Regions from separate parts of the Homo sapiens genome. Here regions 1 and 2 are each linked to region 3. A link means that fine-mapping ties the variant in region 3 to the expression of a gene that starts in the linked region. Tissue or cell type: whole blood. Region 3 holds a variant in brackets; each other region holds the start of a gene. All regions are shown on one strand. Distances are between the middles of the regions.

What was found. PIP is the estimated chance that this variant, and not a neighbour inherited with it, causes the effect.
Region 1: it holds the start of TTYH2, and the variant in region 3 is fine-mapped to the expression of TTYH2 in whole blood (INTERVAL, PIP above 0.99).
Region 2: RPL38 starts here. The variant in region 3 is fine-mapped to the expression of RPL38 in whole blood (INTERVAL, PIP above 0.99).

What each region holds. Positions count from the first base shown.
Region 1 is chr17:74,210,792-74,217,046 of GRCh38, forward strand. It overlaps TTYH2 (tweety family member 2), which reads left to right and starts at 2,780. Exons shown (of 14, transcript NM_032646.6): 1 at 2,780-2,925. The coding sequence starts at 2,797. MGC16275 (a long non-coding RNA gene) reads right to left here and starts at 2,530. Exons shown (of 2, transcript NR_026914.1): 1 at 1,733-2,530; 2 at 1-891. RefSeq lists a silencer at 2,657-2,816 and an enhancer at 5,075-5,124.
Region 2 is chr17:74,200,541-74,206,795 of GRCh38, forward strand. RPL38 (ribosomal protein L38) reads left to right here and starts at 3,138. Exons shown (of 5, transcript NM_000999.4): 1 at 3,138-3,205; 2 at 3,378-3,418; 3 at 3,590-3,650. The coding sequence starts at 3,416. RefSeq lists enhancers at 2,374-2,877, 3,886-4,390, 4,391-4,894.
Region 3 is chr17:74,434,298-74,439,297 of GRCh38, forward strand. All of the region lies in intron 1 of GPRC5C (G protein-coupled receptor class C group 5 member C), which reads left to right. Among named protein-coding and RNA genes, the nearest start is that of GPRC5C, 4.7 kb to the left of the region's middle. The variant C/T (reference allele first, on the strand shown) is at 2,791.

The sequences.
Region 1 (6,255 bases), 220 kb before region 3:
GTGAGGGTGTGAGGTGGTTTTGAGTCTGGTCACGGGTCTTGTTTCCTCCGGGAGAGGGTGGGTACACCAGCCCTCAGGCCCAGGTGCGGCACTGTGGGCGGCTTTCAGCCTTTCCCGTTCTGTAAGCATTGCAGATTCCCAAGGAAAAGCGAGCCTTTACCATGTGGGTTTTCTTTGTTCCCAGCACATCGTCCAGAGTTTCATCCCAGCTCCTAGGAGACAGGCCTTGCAGGGGTGTGTCCAGCCTTGTCTAGAGAAGGCCGCCTTTCATGCAGTGCTTCCCAGCCCTGGCTTGTGACTCAGTCATCTGGGGCACTTAGGCAGTTCACTGTGGTGGCCAGGGCTGACTGGAGATTGCGATTGCGGTGGTCTGGGGCATAGGTGTGTTTCCAAGCTCTCAGGTGGGCCTCTGCTTTGCTGGGGCTTCAGCAAGCCCTTAAGTGCTGCATACCAGGTGAATGGGGAGGGGGGAGGTGATGGGCTACAGCTGCTGGTGTGCCGACTGTCCTCCAACTCCCTGCTGAGTCTGTGGGAGGTCTGTCTGTTGTGCTTCAGCTTTTTGACACCTCTCTGGGTCAGCAGGCCTCCGGGGAAGCAGCTAGAATGGTCGCTGTCTGGCTGGGTGCAGGTGGGCTGACAGGTTTGGATATTCCAGGCCGCATTCCGGTGGCTGTGGAGATAGCCCTGAGGGACAGCCTTTGCAGTTTGTTTCTTCCAGTGCCGTGTGCAGGCCTCCAGCCTTCTGGGGCTCCCTTGCCCCGGGTTCAAAGTCAGTCCTCGGTGACCACCCACTGCCTAGGAGGCAGGCCCTTCCCACCTGGGGGGCCTCTGAGGGCAGGGGCTGTAAAAGCAGCTACCAGAAGAGTCCACTTTCCCCAGCAACTGCAGGGACTGAGTCAGAGACCAAGACCTTTTAAAAGGAGGTTTTCACCCAAAGAAGTTCCCTCCCCTGCCGCAGTCTCCAAGCTGATCGCCTGGCTCCTGCAGTTCTCCGGCTCCCTGTCCTGTTCTGGAACTTGCTTGCTTCCCCTTCCACTGGCCTTAGTCCCTGATCTCACAGGGTCCTGTTCCTTCTGCACAGAGGCCTCCCCCAGCACCCCCCTCTTTGACTCCCGATCATCCTTCAGCTCATGTCACTGTCCTTTGGGAAACAACCCTGACGCCCACCTTCCATCCCCTCTCCCTACAGCAGGGACTCTGACATTTCACAAGGCCTGCAATCGCTGTTTGCAGGATACAAGTCCACCTCACCTCGCCTACTAGGCTGTAGACGCCATGCAGGCGGGAACGTGTGTTTTATCCATTACTGTATCCTCTAGAACAGAGAACGTGCTCAAGAAAATTTGTTGAAAGACACCCCAATGAGAGAAGAATGGCTGTTTCCAGCCTTCCGGGCCCCTCAGCTTTGGGCTCCTGCAGGGCCCCAGAACCGTGGGATCACGGCCACGAGGAGAGGCCCCGAGGCCAGGACTTCCTCTAATGGACACAGGGCCTTTGAGCACCGGGTGACTGGGGCCCCACTCCCCAGCAGCCATATGTGTTTGCGAGCGTTTTCAGTCGGTCCGCATCCACCCGGTCCCTTCAGCCAGAACCCTAGGAGCCCCGCCCCGTCCTCCCGGGGCTCCTTTCTCACCCGCGTCCCTGCCGCGGTGGATACGCACCCCTCAGGCTGGCTGCCCAGCGCGGTTTCCACGCCCAATCTGCCGCGACCCCATCACTCCACCGCACCTACCCCTGACTCCTGCTTGTCCTGCAGCCTGGGCTCCTCCCTCCGCTGGCCAAGTCACGCCAAGCAGTTTGCGGTTACAGGACGGGTGGGGGCCTCTGCATATGTGCAGAGTACGGAGGGCCCAGGGACGCGAGGCTCCCCGATGGGCAACCTCCCCTGCCTTTGCTTTTCCCCAGAGCCCCCTCCTGGCCTGCGTTCGGCATCTTCTCGGGTCGTCATCGCCCTCTGCGGTGCCTGCGCTCGGGGTGAGGGTTTTTGTCGGCTTTTGTTACATCACCGATGTAACAGTGCCTGGACGTAGTAGGTGCTCAATAAATATGTTGTTGAATGCGCTTCAGTCTCCCCGAATGCTTGTCCCTTCCGGGCGCTCTCATCGCTCTCCTACCTTCCCCGCTACACAGCTCGAAGGTCCCCTCCTCCGGGAAGCTCACCCTGTCCCACTTGCCAGGAAGAATCAAGCAAATTTTCTGAGTGAGACACCTTGTCCTCACTCAGGCGTCCTGCAGGCGGCTTCAGCGAGTTGTTGGGGCAGATGCGCCGGGAGCTCCCGAGGGCAGGGACGGCGTCTTATTTCTCTTTTTAAGTCCACAGGGCTTGCACAATAGATGCCCAAAAAATGAGAGTGAATTTAGAATGAGTGACCGAGTGGCTGAAGATTGCCTCCTTCCTTTCCCAGTCTGTCGGTTACTTACCCTGTGACAAGCCCTTGGGACGGGCAGTCGCCCCTCTCTGGCCTATGACTGCTGGCTGCCCCCACTGACACCTTATACCCTTGATCTGATCATAAATAAGAAGCAGCCCGGGGACCTCGAGACTGAAACTGATTTAGAGACTTCTGGGAGCTTTTTTCACTTCCCTCCTCCCATCCGGCCAGGACAGATCCCCGCCCAGAAAGGGGCTGTTGACTGCAGCGGGCTGCGCGCCCAGAACTGGGACTGGGATCGCGGCGGGGCGGGGCGGGCGCGGGCCCAGGGAGAGGCGGGGCCGGGGGCGGGGCGGGCACGGGGCCCCGGCCGGGAGGTGAGCGCAGCTGTCGTTCAGCTTGTGGGTAGCACTCGGGCCGAGCCATGCAGGCGGCGCGCGTGGACTACATCGCTCCCTGGTGGGTCGTGTGGCTGCACAGCGTCCCGCACGTCGGCCTGCGCCTGCAGCCCGTGAACAGCACCTTCAGCCCCGGCGACGAGAGTTACCAGGAGGTAAGTTTACGCCGCCCCAGACCGCAGCCACGCGCGCCCCAAGTCCCCGCACTACCCCCTCTCCCCTCGAGAGCCTGCACTTTCCCACGTGCCTCTCAGACCCCTTCTCTCCCCGCGCAGCCCTTTCCCGTCTCCCCTCTCCCCTTTTCCCCCACCCTCCCAGGCCCGTGGCCCGCGTCCCCTCCTGTCTGGGAACCTGGGGGCCGGGAAAACTGAAGAGATCAGAGTGAAGCGAGCGTGGGGAAGGGGAGGAAGGGCGCAAGACCGCCTGCGGGGTGAGGGGCTGAACGCTGAGCGGGCAGGGCGGCGCGGGGGAGGGGTAAGGACAGGGGCATTCGTCTCGGGGTAATCCTGGCGCGCGAGGTGCGGGGATGCTGAGGGGTGCCCCGAAGTTTTCGACCGTCTGAGATTCCAAGATGGGGCGCTCTCTTTCCGGGGCTGAGTGGCCTAGGAAAGTTTGGCAGAAACTGAGTAGAGTCTCCCGAGTCGGTCTTCGCAGCACCCCTCCTCCCCAGCCCCGGCCTGCAGGGTGGGAGTCTCAGCTGGAAGGCTGCAGGGCTTGGGGAAGCGGTGTGGGTCACTTCCCCTCTAGCGCAGAGAACCCACAGCTGCTTGCGCTTGTTCCAGGGAAGGAAGGTGGCCTCCGTCAGCCCATCTCACACTGTTGTCCTGAGGACCCCCTTGCATTGACAGTCAGCTTCTCTGTGTCCCCTGGTCCTAGACTGGCCCATTCCTGTTCCCCCACGCCCCTCTCTCTACCTCACACCTTTAAGCCCTGAATTTCTGGCCTAGGGCAGTCACTCCCGGCTTCCCCGCCCTTTCCCTACTCTGCTGACCCTTGGCAGGATTCTGCACCCCACAAACAGGGCCAGGGCTCCCCAGACCTCCCTGCCCAGACAAACAAAGCTGCAGAATCTCCCAGCCCGTCTCAGGTCTGGTCACGCCTGCTCTGGCCCCGGGAGCCCACCTGTATCAGTTCCTTGTGTTGGGTCAAAGATTCTGGGGCCAGTGGACCAGGATGAGGTCCATTTATTCAGAGCCAGGCGCCCATCTCAGGACTTTGGCCCCCGGCGGCCTCTCCCTGTGTCAAGTTCTCCAGATATGGGACAGATCAGGGCAAAGCAGGGCCTCTTGGAGGGAATCCTGATCCAGTGTGAGGTGCCCAAGCGCCAGTGACAGGGAGTCTAATAATAACCCCTGACGACCCGGCTGCCATCAGGCCCAGGCAGATGGTGCCTGCCCTACCAGAGGGAGGGGAGCATCAGGACCCCTTCCTGGGGTTCAGTGGGCACTCAGGAGCAAGACGGCAGTCGGTGGACCCACCCCCCTCCCCCAGAGCCCAGCCTGTGGGAGTCTGTGTTCCCTGAGAATGTGGCTGCCTGGGGATAGCTCCAGGGAATCTTCCTCTCCCAGAGAATGCATGAAAAGAGGCGGATATGATTTCAGAAACAGCCGTGTGTGTGTGTGTGTGTGTGTGTGTGTGTGTGTCCCCATCCCAAACCCTGTGCCCCACATCCCACACCCGGGGTCTCCAGCCATAGTTTTCTCCTCTCCACTGGAGGAAATCTAAACTTTTCATTGGGTCAAGAAGACCCCTAGGTGGGGGTAGGGATGGTAAGGGGACTCCCTCACCCTGATGGCCCCAGAGACAGTTCCTATCAGCCCAACAGCTGTGGCTGGTGGATCCTGGGCCTGCCCACAGCCCCCTCAGTCCCATGGGCAGGTGGCAGTTGAGCCAGATGAACCTACCTCCAGCCTCTGCCCCTCCTCCCAGGATTCTGGCCCCGGCTCACTTTGTGCTGGGCATCAAATGGTTCCAGAGGGTGTCCCTTCCCATCGGCCACTGCTCCTGGGCAGCTGACACCAGCCCTGCCCACTGGCTCCTGGTCCCGCTCACCCCCTCACCACCACTCAGATCGCTGAGTAGGAGATGAGCGTGGTGGGCCAGGACCGGAAGTCTGGCTCTGGGTGTTATTTAAGGTGGCTCCTGTTTTTGGTAAGTTCCCCTGTTGTGACCACAGGTCTCTCCTGGATGTCTTCTTTCCTCCTGAGCACCAGTCACTAACAGAGTCAGGTGGACCGTCGGTCATCCCAGTCTTCAGCAAGCTTGACTGGAGCAAGTGCTATGCCAGGCGTGGGGTGACCGTGGTAACCAAGGCAGCAGGTCTTCAGGAGAAATTGCTGGGGATTTTCTGCGGCTGGGCTCTGGGCGCAGTGCTATGGCAGACACCAAGCAGTTTGAGGTGGGGCTCTGCCCTCCAGTTGGCTGGGGTGGATTCCCAGTTCTTTCCATGTGTGACCACGGGTAGGTGTCTTAACCTCTCTGAGCCTTGTTCCCTTCATCTGCAAGAATTAGATGAGATATTCCACATATCATGCCTAGTACAGAGAGTCCCATAGCACATAACAGGAGCCAGTGACACAGATCATTCAATGGAGTGGCTGAGAGGTTCAGGAGTGTGTCTCAGGACAGTACCCTGCTGGGGAATGGAGAGGAAGGAGATCTCTTCCACAGACTCTGATTGGGGGAGACTGAACAAAACGCCTGCAGAAAGGGCTTCAGCTCATGCCCCACATGTTCAAATGCACAGTGCTGGCTGTGTGGGGTGTGGGGGGTGGGTGCGTGTGCATCAGAGACTAAGCAAGGATGGAAACAGGCAGGTGCTGGCCTTAGGATGTGGGTGGTGCGGGGGATCTCAAAGGCAAGGGGGTTCTTGGAAGTGCAGAGATGGTGAAGAGCAGGTCACCTGGTGAGCTGGGATTTCCTGAGCAAGTTCAGTGTTCCAGAACCTTCCTGAGGAAGTAGGGGCTCTCACTCACTTTCTGGGGTGTTTGGGAGCCGTGAAAGCCCCCAGTCCTCCTGATAGTTGATCCTCACCCCTCTCCCCCCAGTGAACTTGAGCCCAAGTCCTCGCAAAGGCCACTTGGCCTGTGTCACCAGCCTTGTGGGGAGGCTACCCTCCAGTGAGTAGAGGCATGAGAGGTGAGCACCAAGGCAGGGCTGTGGACGAGGGCACCTTGGCCCTGGCGGGCACCCAGCTCTGGGCTGCCAGATGTGGCTGTATGTCTGGAAGGAAATCAGCCTAGACCTGCAGCCCAAGTCTTCTCACCTTTGACAGATGAGGGGGATTGGATTTGGAGACGATTCCTACTCTAAAGAGATGATAAAAGAACTAATGAGTTCATGGATTATGAAGCCTGTGGCCAGTGCCTGGCACACTGGAAACTGCTACAATCACTGCTTAGGAAGGAGAAGACTGCAGCCAGCCGGTGTCCACTGGGCAGTGTTGGGGAGAAGGGAATGGGCACCTGGCACTGAATCCAGCAATG
Region 2 (6,255 bases), 230 kb before region 3:
CCGTGCCAGCCCTCTGCCCACCTGCGAGCTGGGGCATTGGGGTTTTTTTGACCCATCCTGGTCCTCTTTCCAATGTGTCCCTGAAAACTGAAGAGAGAACTCTAAACCATTTGGCCTTCAGAGGTGGCCAGAGTGGGGCTGCTGGAGGGAGGAGGGGAGGCCCGGTGACTTCTGAGGCCCTCTCTGCCCAGAGCCAGCAGAGTGAGGGAAGGGAAGGAAGGAAAAGGGTTGGATTGTGTCCTGTAGCTCCGGACATGCCCTCTGAGCCTCTCCTGCCTCCAGCCATGCTGCAACACACTGCTTGAGACCCTCCCTACCGCCTCTTGACAACAGCAATAGCCCTCACCATCCCACAGCTGCCAGCACTGGACATTCCAGCCTACCAATGGCCAGAGCGACCATAACAGGCAGCCTGGGCCATCCTGCCCTCGAGTCCGGGGCTTTCCTCTCCTGCAGGATCCACCCTAGGCCCTGGAGAGTTTTGTTTCATGTGTATATGGGAGTCATCAGGGAGGCTCATGTCCAGGTCAGCATCTGCTCAAGGTCTCAGGCTGTGGCACTCAGGGCCTAGGCTCTGCCCCCCTTGGTCTCTGACAGTCCCCGGCCACTCCAGGACATTTGGGGCTCATCTTCCCATGGAGCAGGGAAGCGTGCCCTCTGGGCACCTTGCCTCACTTTTAGTAGCTGCAGCTTATTTTGCTATTTGTCCCCCTTGGGGAGCTGGAGGTCTTTGGTACTTGAACAAATTTGCCATTGTGTTTTGCTACTACACGTCTATGGTCCCTTAAATTATACAACTCAAGAGGGTGAACATCTGTCTCCCTGGGATCGCTGCCAAAAGGGAGGTGCAGCTCCTCCTTCTATCCCCGTCCTTGTCCTGTCGGGCCGGCAGTGAGGCAAGAAGCACCAGTCATTCATTCAACAAATAGTTTTTGGACCTACTACATGCCAGGCACTGCTTCAGGCACGTCAGTGTCTCCTTCTGGCTCTCCCTGAATTCCTCCCTCCATCCACCACCCCTTTATATGGTGAGTGATCTCAGATGCCGCATCCAGCCGGATCATCCTGCAATGTTAGCATTGAGCACTTACTGTACAGATGGGTACTGCACTTCGAGAGTTATCGACAGAATGCTGAGCCCTGTCCTTGCCTTCAAGGAAAAGTGGTAAGGTGGGGCGTAGTGGCTCACACCTGTTATCCTAGCACTTTGGGGGGCCGAGGCAGGAGGATCCCTTGAGCCCAGGAGTTCGAAACCAGCTTGGGCAACCTAGGGAGACCATGTCTCTAAAAAAGTTTTAAAAAATTAAAAATAAAAAGAGTGGTGCGCATGTATGAAAAGTTAAACACCTCCACGCAGCCTACGGAGAAGTGATTGCAAGGAACCACTGTATGAGCGGCAAGCAACATAAGTCAAGGGTGAAGGGTCCTGCCTGAAAAAGGGGAGGCGGGAGCTGAGCTCGGAAGGACCAGTGGCACTTGGCATCAGAGTGGACAGCAGAGCAAATACCTGGAGGGCAGAAAGTGCCCAAAAGTGCCCCTCGGCTTGGCTGAAAGGGTGGTTGCTTGTGGAGGAGCAGTGGGGTAGAAAAGACCAGAAAGGCATCGCCTGAGATGGGAAGGGCTGGCAAAGCCGGGCTCTGAGGTATGGGAAAATCCTTCTCAGGTCAGAGCTGAAGCACTCGTGCTTCTCAGATCGGATCCGACCTTCAGACATCTAAAATTAGGCTTCTGCCAATTAACTTTTCCCACTGCTAGAACCCCGACACATTTACAGTTGCAGAGACATCGTTCAGCTTCTTTAAAAGACTCTTCAGTGTTATTACAATATTTTTGTGATCTCTCTGCAGCAAGGTCTATTGGTTCCTGTATCTCCAGCACCCCCAGGAAGGTGCTCAGCCTGAGCTTGTTAATGGAAGGGCAGGAGGGAGGAAGAAAGGAAGGTTAAGTTAAATAAGTTCTAAGTAAAGCTCATGGCAAAGTGTTCTTTCCCTTCAGGAGGGCCGCTCTGTAATAATAAGCACGAAGCAATTACATTCTGCCGTGTGGTTATTAAATTTTGGGGAAACAAATATAATAAAATGTAGACATTTGTAGGGAGGTTGGAGATAAAATAAAAATGGAGGATAAAAATAAAATCGATAACCGCAGGTTGCTCAGAGTCTAACCTAAAGGATGTTAGGGGGAGAAAGGAACGCTGCCCTCCCCAGGCTTCCCAAGCCTCCCCAGGAAGTGGCCGGAGCCTGGGCTGGGGAATCTGCCCAGCAGGGGTTCAACTCCTGAGTCCACCTCTCCCCTCTGGGGCCGCGGTGAGACCCCGCAAGAGCAGGAGCACTCCCACTCACCATCAGCCCTAGGGGTGAGACACTTAGCCAGGGGCAGCGCTGCGACAGCTTTTGGAAGTATTATTATTATTATCATTATTGCTAGAGATGGGGGGGGGGAGGTCTTACTAGGTTGCCCAGGCTGCTCTCGAACTCCTGGCCTCAAGCGATCCGCCTGCCTCGGCCTCCCCCAGTGCTGGGGTTATAAGCGTGAGCCACCGCGCCCGGCCTTAACTTGCTTTCATTGTACACCAATTCCTAAGGGAATTGGAAGCAGCAAGCAGGAACGCTCCCTCTTATGGAAAGAAGAGCCCAGGGCCCTGGTCATGACAGGTTCAGGTGCCAAAAAGGAGACGGGAAGAAAACGTGAGGCGCCAGAACAACAGGTTCTACAAGGTGCACACGAGGGTCCCTGCCATTGAATGAAGAATTTTCTGTGTGGATGCCCCTGCGCAGGTCCAATGAAAGCCGTGGAGAATAAGCGTTAGCTCTTCAAACTGAATCTGAGCTAAAACCTAGCAAAGCCAGGCTGGGGTCTGAGGGGTTGCGGGGGAAGACAGGAAGGGGTGGACGGGGAAGAGGCGGGGGTCCTAGGAGGAAGGGATGGGGAGGAGCGAGAGGAGGGAGGCGGAGGGAGGGCGGCAGCCAGGATGGTCCATTCCATTCTTGGAGCTGCACTGTTGACTTCGACCACAAGGGGGCAGGGCTGCTGAAATTGGAAGTGCGAACGCCTACATGAGTCTTGATCCTCGGCAGGCACCGTACCCAGTTTCCTCCGTTGGGAGGGTTTAACTGCCCGGAAACGGAAGTCTCGTTCTTTTTCGTCCTTTTCCCCGGTTGCTGCTTGCTGTGAGTGTCTCTAGGGTGATACGTGGGTGAGAAAGGTAATCTGGGGCAATCCACTGCCAGGTGAAATCTGGGGACCCCAGGTCCGCGTGGAGGGTGTCGGGGAGGAGAAGGGGAGTGCGATGGGGCCGATATTTCGGGGGAGAGCGGGAAAACGGGGTTCGCTGCCAGCCCCCGCGCCGTGTTAACGCCGAGGACTGTTTCCCGCAGGTCCTGGTCCGCGCCAGAGCCCAGCGCGCCTCGTCGCCATGGTGAGTACAGTCCCTGCCTGGCGCCTTCCCGGGGTGGGCTCGTGGGGCCCCGGGGCGAGGGCGAGAGAGCCTCCCAAGGATCTCCTGAGGCCGGGAGAAGCTGGTGGACTGGGCCATCGCCGGGAGACGTGTCTCTTTCCTCTCTGTTCACCCGCTTCCTTTGTGTTGCAGCCTCGGAAAATTGAGGAAATCAAGGACTTCCTGCTCACAGCCCGACGAAAGGATGCCAAATGTAAGTGGTTGCTCCGAAGGTTCAAGAAGAGCGGTGCCTAGCCTGGCACCGCTCCGGGAGCGTCTTCCCCGGAATGTCAGGCAGGAGACGGTTAGGCCGTCTGGGTGTGTGCCTGGCCCTCTGGGAGCAGTGGTTTCATCCTGTTTCCCATGAGAAAGACCTGTGGGGGGCACGTTGAGGCCCTGGAATTTCTAGGACCATCTTTAGCTAATCGCGATCATCTCAGAGGCCGCCCTGAGTTCAGTTTTCTTTCGTATAATATAGTAAATTGTCGGAACGGAATCTCCACTCCGCGAAAGCCTCAAAACACACGTCCCATAAACACTGTTTAGGTTCTCTGCAGTTGTGCAAAATCTTAACACAAAATCCATTTTGTAATAAAGTGCTGGATATTTGCATGTAATGTATCGAGCACGGCACACTGTGTAGTATGGTCGTTTACCTCGTGATCCTGTGGTCGCTGGCCAGTGTCAGAAGGTATCATACCTATCTAATCCAGAAAAATATTTAAAAAAATTTTTTTTTTTCTTTGAGACAGTCTGGCTCTGTCGCCCAGGCTGGATTGCAGTGGTGCGATCTTGGCTCACTGCAATTACCGCCTCCCAGGTTCAAGCGATCCCCCTGCCTCAAAGTAGCTGGGCGCGCCACCATGCCTAGCTGATTTTTGTGTTTTTGGTAGAGACAGAGTTTCACCATGTTGGCCAGGCTGGTCTCGAACTCCTAACCTCAGATGATCCACCTGCCTCCGCCTCCCAGAGTGCTGGGATTACAGGTGTGAGCCACTGTGCCCCGCCAAGATCAAAATTTGAAGCAGGGCTTCTACTGAATGTATATCGCATTACCACCATTGTAAAGTCACAGAGTTTAAGTTGGACTGTCATAGGTCTGTTTCCCAGCTTGTACATACAGGGGAAAGAAGGTGATTAATGAAAAACCTTAAACAGCAGGTTTTCGATGGATAGGTGCCAATCTCTGCTGCCCACTTACTTAAATTTTTACACCAAGTGTGAGAGGTAGTTGTGTTACTCCTTTGTGATACTTGAAGGAGATTGGGGGGGCTTGTGTTTGATACAAGCTAGGTCTTGAGTTATGTTGTTACTTTAACCCAGTCATCTTTTTTCAGCTGACTGAGAATCAGGTCACATGTGGAAGTGAGGTTGCATGGGACAGGCCTGTTAAGGTGGGCTAAGACACCAGCCGTCTCTAATGCTCTGCCAGCCGTGGTGCCAGACGGTGGTTGGTGTACAGGGAGAGTCTTTCAATGAGTTGGGGGTAGGCAGAGATGGGGGTCATATTTGTGTCCCCATTACCCAAAACAGGCTGTCACCTTTGAGGTAGTGACCACCTGTGGGGACAAATAGCATCTGGTGGGAATGATGACTGTTGGCTAGTGTTTTGTGTAAAGAGATGAGGTTATCAGGTCAGTTTTATTTCAGACCATATGGGGTCACTGCCTAGTTTGAAGCCCAACTCTACCTGCAGGTAACTTACCCTTCTCAGCAAGTTAAACACGACACCACCGTTTGATTGTGTTTTAAAAGGGTGGTGGTCCGGGCGTGGTGGCTCATGCCTATAATTCCAGCACTTTGGGAGGCCAAAGCGGACAGATCGCTTGAACCAGGAGTTCAAGACCAACCTGGGCGACATGGCAAAACCCCATTTCTACTAAAAATAAAAAAATTAGCCAGGCATGGTGGCACACGCCTGCAGTCCCAGCTACTCAGGAGGCTGAGGCAGGAGAATCAGTTGAACCAAGGAGACGGAGGTTGCAGTGAGCTGAGATTGTCTCACTGCACTCCAGCCTGGGTGACAGAGCGAGACTGTCTCACAAAAAAAATTGGGAACCTTCATTTTAGATGATGTGGCTTTAAAGGTAGTGGTCACAGTCCCCTGGGGACAGTAAAGTGTCAGTAGCTGTTTGTTGAAAAAACTTTTTAAAATGGTTGTATTAATTTTTAACGTGTAATAGGCATAGCGTAAAAGTTACCATTTACACTGGGTATGGTGGTTCCCATCTGTAATCCCAGCACTTTGGGAGACTGAGGCAGATGGATGAGACTAGCCTGGGCATCATAGTGAGACCCTGTCTCTATAAAAGAAAAAAGTTAGCCGGGCGTGTGCTGGTGGTCCTAGCTACTCAGGAGGCTGAGGTAGGATTGCTTGAATCCAGGAAATTGAGGCTATAGTGAGCCACGATTATGCTACTGCACTCCGGGCTGGGCAACAAAGCATAATTGTACAGTTCAGTGGCATTCAGTAAATACACATTGTTGAGCAGCTGCCACCATCACCGCCCATCTCCAGAACTTTATCTTCCCAAACTGAAACTCCCTCTGTTAAACACCAGCTCCCCATTCTTCCCCAGCCCCTGGCAACCACCTTCCAATTTGTCCCTGAATGTGACTGCTCTGGATACCCCATACAAGTGGGTCTGCTATTGCATATTTGACCTTTTGTGACTGGCTTCTCTTCACATGTCCTCAAGCATGTGTCAGAATTGCCTTCTGTTTTTTCTTTCTTTTTTTTTTTTTTTTTTTTTTGACATGGAATGTCACTCTGTTGCCCAGACTGGAGAGCAGTGGCGGAATCTCAGCTCACTGCAAGC
Region 3 (5,000 bases):
GCAGAAGATGCAACTCCAACATGGAGGGGACAACCCTGGGTGTGGAGAAATGCACCTGGGACCATCCAGAGGTGACTTCCAAATGCCCACTGTGTTCAGGCACAGCACCAGCTGTGGCAGTGGATTCTAGAAGTCTTGTTCACCAGCTTCAAAGACCTTACAGCCCTGGAGGGGAGACACGGACATGATTTGAACGTTCAGGGATCAGAAGGCTCAGTCTTAGTGCAGGGTCTGGGGACCCACAGGAGGCAGAAGTTTCCTCCAGGGTCCTGAGGAAAAGCCTCTGACCAGAGCTGAGTCCATCTTGTCAGTCCCTTAGCCACCATCTTAAAAGGTGGCATTGGGCCGGGAACGGTGGCTCACACTTGTAATCCCAGCACTTTGAGAGGCTGAGGTAGGTGGATCACCTTAGGTCAGGAGTTTGAGACCAGCCTGGCCAACATAGTGAAACCCTGTCTCTACTAAAAATACAAAAATTAGTTGGGCATGGTGGTGGGCACCTGTAATCCCAGCTACTCGGGAGGCTGAGGCAGGAGAATTGCTTGAACCTGGGAGTTGGAGGTTGCAGTGAGCCGAGATCATGCCATTGCACTCCAGTCTGGGCAACAAGAGTGAAGCTTCGTCTCAAGAAAAAAAAAAAGGCTGGGCGCAGTGGCTCACGCCTGTAATCCCAGCACTTTGGGAGGCCGAAGCGGGCGGATCACGAGGTCAGGAGATTGAGACCATCCTAGCTAACACGGTGAAACCCCGTCTCTACTAAAAATAGAAAAAATTAGCCGGGCGTGGTGGCGGGCGCCTGTAGTCCCAGCTACTCGGGAGGCTGAGGCAGGAGAATGGCATGAACCTGGGAGGCGGAGCTTGCAGTGAGCCGAGATCACGCCACTGCGCTCCAGCCTGGGCGACAGAGCGAGACTCCGTCTCAAAAAAAGAAAAAAAAAAGGCATTGGCTGAATGTGCACTCCCGGCATCAGAGGGCTGGAGCTGTGCTCTTCTGAGCTTCTCTTTAACTCTCTGAGGGTCCCTGTCCTAGGCAGTGGATGAGAGCCACGCCCAGAAAGCCCAGGTTTCCCACCTGAGTCCATGTATTTCTGTCTTCCCACCTGCCCTTCCATTTCTGGGGGAACCAGAGAAATAAGATATTTCAGGATGGGACCAGGTTGTTTCCTCTGAGGCTGTTAAGTTACTCAGCAACTTACTAAAAGCAGCAGCCTGGCTGCTGGGCAGCAGCATGGTACCTGGATGCGGTGAGGGGCAGGTACAGGCTCCTCTCTCATTCCTTGAAAGTTTCTATATTGAGGGGGTTGGCAGGAGAAGCAAGACTTGAAGGGTCAGGTGCAGAAGGAAGTTGCTGGTCACCAACCACAAAATCAGGGGGAAACTGGAGGTGGGGGCTTAGGGACAGAGAGCTGTGAAGCTTTCCTGACCCTAGCCCAAGTGCCTGTGGGCTTCTTGGAGCCAGCAGGGTACAGGCAAGTATTTCTAGGGCAAGATGGATCAAGAAGAATGAGTGACATTGGTCCCTGGCTTGGTTTTCTGTAATGACATGCCTGTTAGATTTGAACTTGTAGTATGGGCTTTAGTATCCTTTTCCCCCACCTCCGCCATCCAACCAGTCCTTCGATTGTTTTTTGGAAAGGATCTTTCAGAGCTGGCCATTATGGCTTTACCTTTGGCCTTGACCTTTAAACTGGAATGAATGTGCCCCCCAACAAATCGATTGCCTGTGCATTTTTGCCAGACTCTTTTCCTAAAAGCGCAACCCTGGCTATGCCCCCATGATGCTAAAAGCAGCCTTCAGTGGCTGCCTGTTGCCTTTAGGATAATGCCCCCAGCCCCACCCCTGTAGCATTTCCAATGTGTCAGCCAGCAGCTGCAGCCTCCCTTTGCAGACTCAGCTGATACTTGGCAAACTGAATTCTTTTTTAACTTGCTCTGGACTTGGGCTCAAAGGGCTTTGATTCACACCATCTTTTCTGCCTTGCACGTCCCTCTCCTTGTTCCCTTCACCTGCTCAGTCCTTCCTCACATTCTTCAGGGCTTAGCTTTTGGGTGTCCCTGTCTCTTGGCAGTGTCTGGGACCTGGTATGTTTTTTTATTAGATTCTGAGTAAAACTCTGCGGAACAGTCTTTCTCTACTCTGCCTGTTTCTCTTCTGTGTTCCTGTAGCCCCTGTCTCTCTCCTGCAGGTAAATTCCGTTGTGTGGCCCTTAATCATATTCTTCCTTGTGTAATTTTTGTGAGTACCTACCTTATCTCTCTTGATAGATTTTAAATGCCATCAAGTCAGGGACTACGTTTGTTCATGTTTGTATTTTCCACAGCTCTGGGAACAACAGGGCCTTTCCTTCCCAGGCGCACAGTCAATATTTGCTGATTTGGAGTAATTGCCTGTTCTAAACTGGGCCCTGGCCGAGGGAGGTGGGGTGAAAAGCCCTTGAAAGTGCAGGTGTCCGGAGTCTAAGTGGCAGTTCTGAGGGTTCTCTTCCCTACGTCCAGCTTCAAGCCCAAGTTCTGGCTGGTTTGGCTGTGGAGCCCAAGATGAAGTTGAACATTTAGGATCCCACAGCTTGTTGTTATCCATAAATTATCTCCCAGGAGTGGGTCCATATTACGCCTTCCCTTTTTTGTTGTTGTTGTTGTTGTCGTTGTTGTTTTTGGTTTTTGAGATGGAGTCTCGCTCCGTCACCCAGGCTGGAGTGCAGTGGCGCAATCTCGGCTCACTGCAATCTTCTGCCTCCCAGGTTCAAGGGATTCTTCTGCCTCAGCCTCCTGAGTAGCTGGGATTACAGG[C/T]GCACGCCACCACACCTGGCTAATTTTTGTATTTTTAGTAGAGACGTGGTTTCAGCATGTTGGTCAGGCTGGTCTGGAACTCCTGACCTCGTGATCTGCCCGCCAAAAGTGCTGGGATTACAGCATGAGCCACCGCACCCAGCCTACTCCTTACCTCTTAGCCCTCTCTTACTCCTCTTTCCAGCACTTGTAAATAAAATGCAGTTGGTGCTTTATTGATTTACAAAGTCCCCTACAGAAGCTTATTTAAGTCCTGCATTAGAAGTAAAGAGAAACTAGCCATTAGAACGCCAGTTATTTAGGAAAACAACAGTACATTTACATGAGATAGTTAATTTTAAGAGTTAATCTTAAGCAAGCTTAATTGAAAGATGAGGTAGCTGAGATGGCTAAGACGACCTAAATATTTTCAAGTGGCATGGAGACTATTTGAAGGGACTTTGAAAATGGATCCTCTTTATTGTGTCCATTTCACTTAATTTTATGAGTTGCATTGCCCCTGATTTAGTAAGTGTTCTTTCACATAACAATTATGGACAGAATTTTTTTTTTTTTTTGCTTCTGTGTTGAAAAGAGGGACAATTTCTATCAACTGTGGGATTTAGGGCTTTTGTTTGCCTATTAGAAATTAAGTAGCCAGGAATGGTAGAAAACAGTAAGGAGGTAAACCATGTATAAACAACCTCACAATCCCCCTAAAAAAGGAAAAAGGGTGGCAGCCTCACAGAAGAGAGTTAGATAATGCCATTCCCCTGCCAGCCACTAGTGGTCACTGTCAGACCAGGAAAGCTTGGTTGCTGTTTTCCCAGAGAGTTCCTGATGAAGCTGGGTTACAACTAGTTATTTGAACACGTGGGGTGACTTAAATGTGGACTACCTGCATTCATAGAATTTTGAAACGTATAACCTGTTTCTTTAAGCATTTAAATTTTCTTTTTCTTTTCTTTTCTTTTCTTTCTTTTTTTTGGAAACAGTCTCGCTCTGTTGCCCAGGCTGCAGTGCAGTGGTGCAATCGCAGCTCACTGCAGCCTCGATCCCCTGGGCTCAGATGATCCTCTAACCTCAGCCTCCCAAGTAGCTCAGACTACAGGTGCATGCCACCACACTCTCTGCTAATTCATATATATATATATATATATATATATATATATATATATATATATATTTGTTGTTGTTGTTGTTGTTTGTTTTCATACAGAGTCTCACTCTATTGATCAGGTTGGAGTGCAGTGGCGCAGTCTTGGCTCACTGCAACTTCCACCTCCCGGGCTCAAGCAATTCTCCTGCCTCAGCCTCCTGAATAGCTGGTATTATAGGCGTGCACCTCCACGCCCGGCTAATTTTTGTATTTTTAGTAGAGACGGGGTTTCACCATTTTGGCCGGGCTGGTCTCGAACTCCTGACCTCAAGTGATCCACCAGTCTTGGCCTCCCAAAGTGCTGGGATTACAGGCGTGAGCCACTGCACCCAGCTGCTAATTTTTGTGTTTTTTATAGAGACGGGGTTTCACCATGTTGCCCAGGCTGGTCTCAAACTCCTGGACTCTAGCAATCTGTTCACCTTGACCTCCCAAAGTGCTGGGATTATAGGCATGAACCACCGTGCCCAGCAGCATTTAAATTTTCAGTGTTAGGTTTCCTCCAAGTACATTTAAAACTTTTGATTGGAAAAAAACTCATTGATTTGGTCTTTAATATTTCTTAACCTGTTAAATCCATTACCTCCACTTCACGTGGGAAAATCCAATTGGTATTGGGAGCAGGAGTTTGGTTTTCTTCTCTGGCACAGATCTGTGGCATTTGGTAGAGCGGCAGTCAGTAGATGGAGTGAAAATTACCTTGCTGGTGTTAATAAAAGCTAATTTTCTTGCCTTCTAGCTACAACGTCTTAAAGTCTTCTATTAAAGATTAATTCCTTTGGGTTTTGCATTGCCCTTGCCTGGTTCTTACTTTTAAAATGTTAATGCTCCGAAGGAAAATTTTTGCATTAAGTCATTAACTCCTTAGCTGGGGACTTCGTTTATTTCACCCTTGACTTCCGCTTCCGAGCTAGGCAAAAAATGGAGGATTCTGAACTGGAGACTTGGCACTAAAAGTGGGAAAATGACTGTCTCTTCATTTTTCCTGGCTGTTGGTTATGCCTGCTGCAGCTGCTTGTTAAGTCTATTGAATGAATGAATGAACACATAGCTGACTGGCTGTGGATTTAGG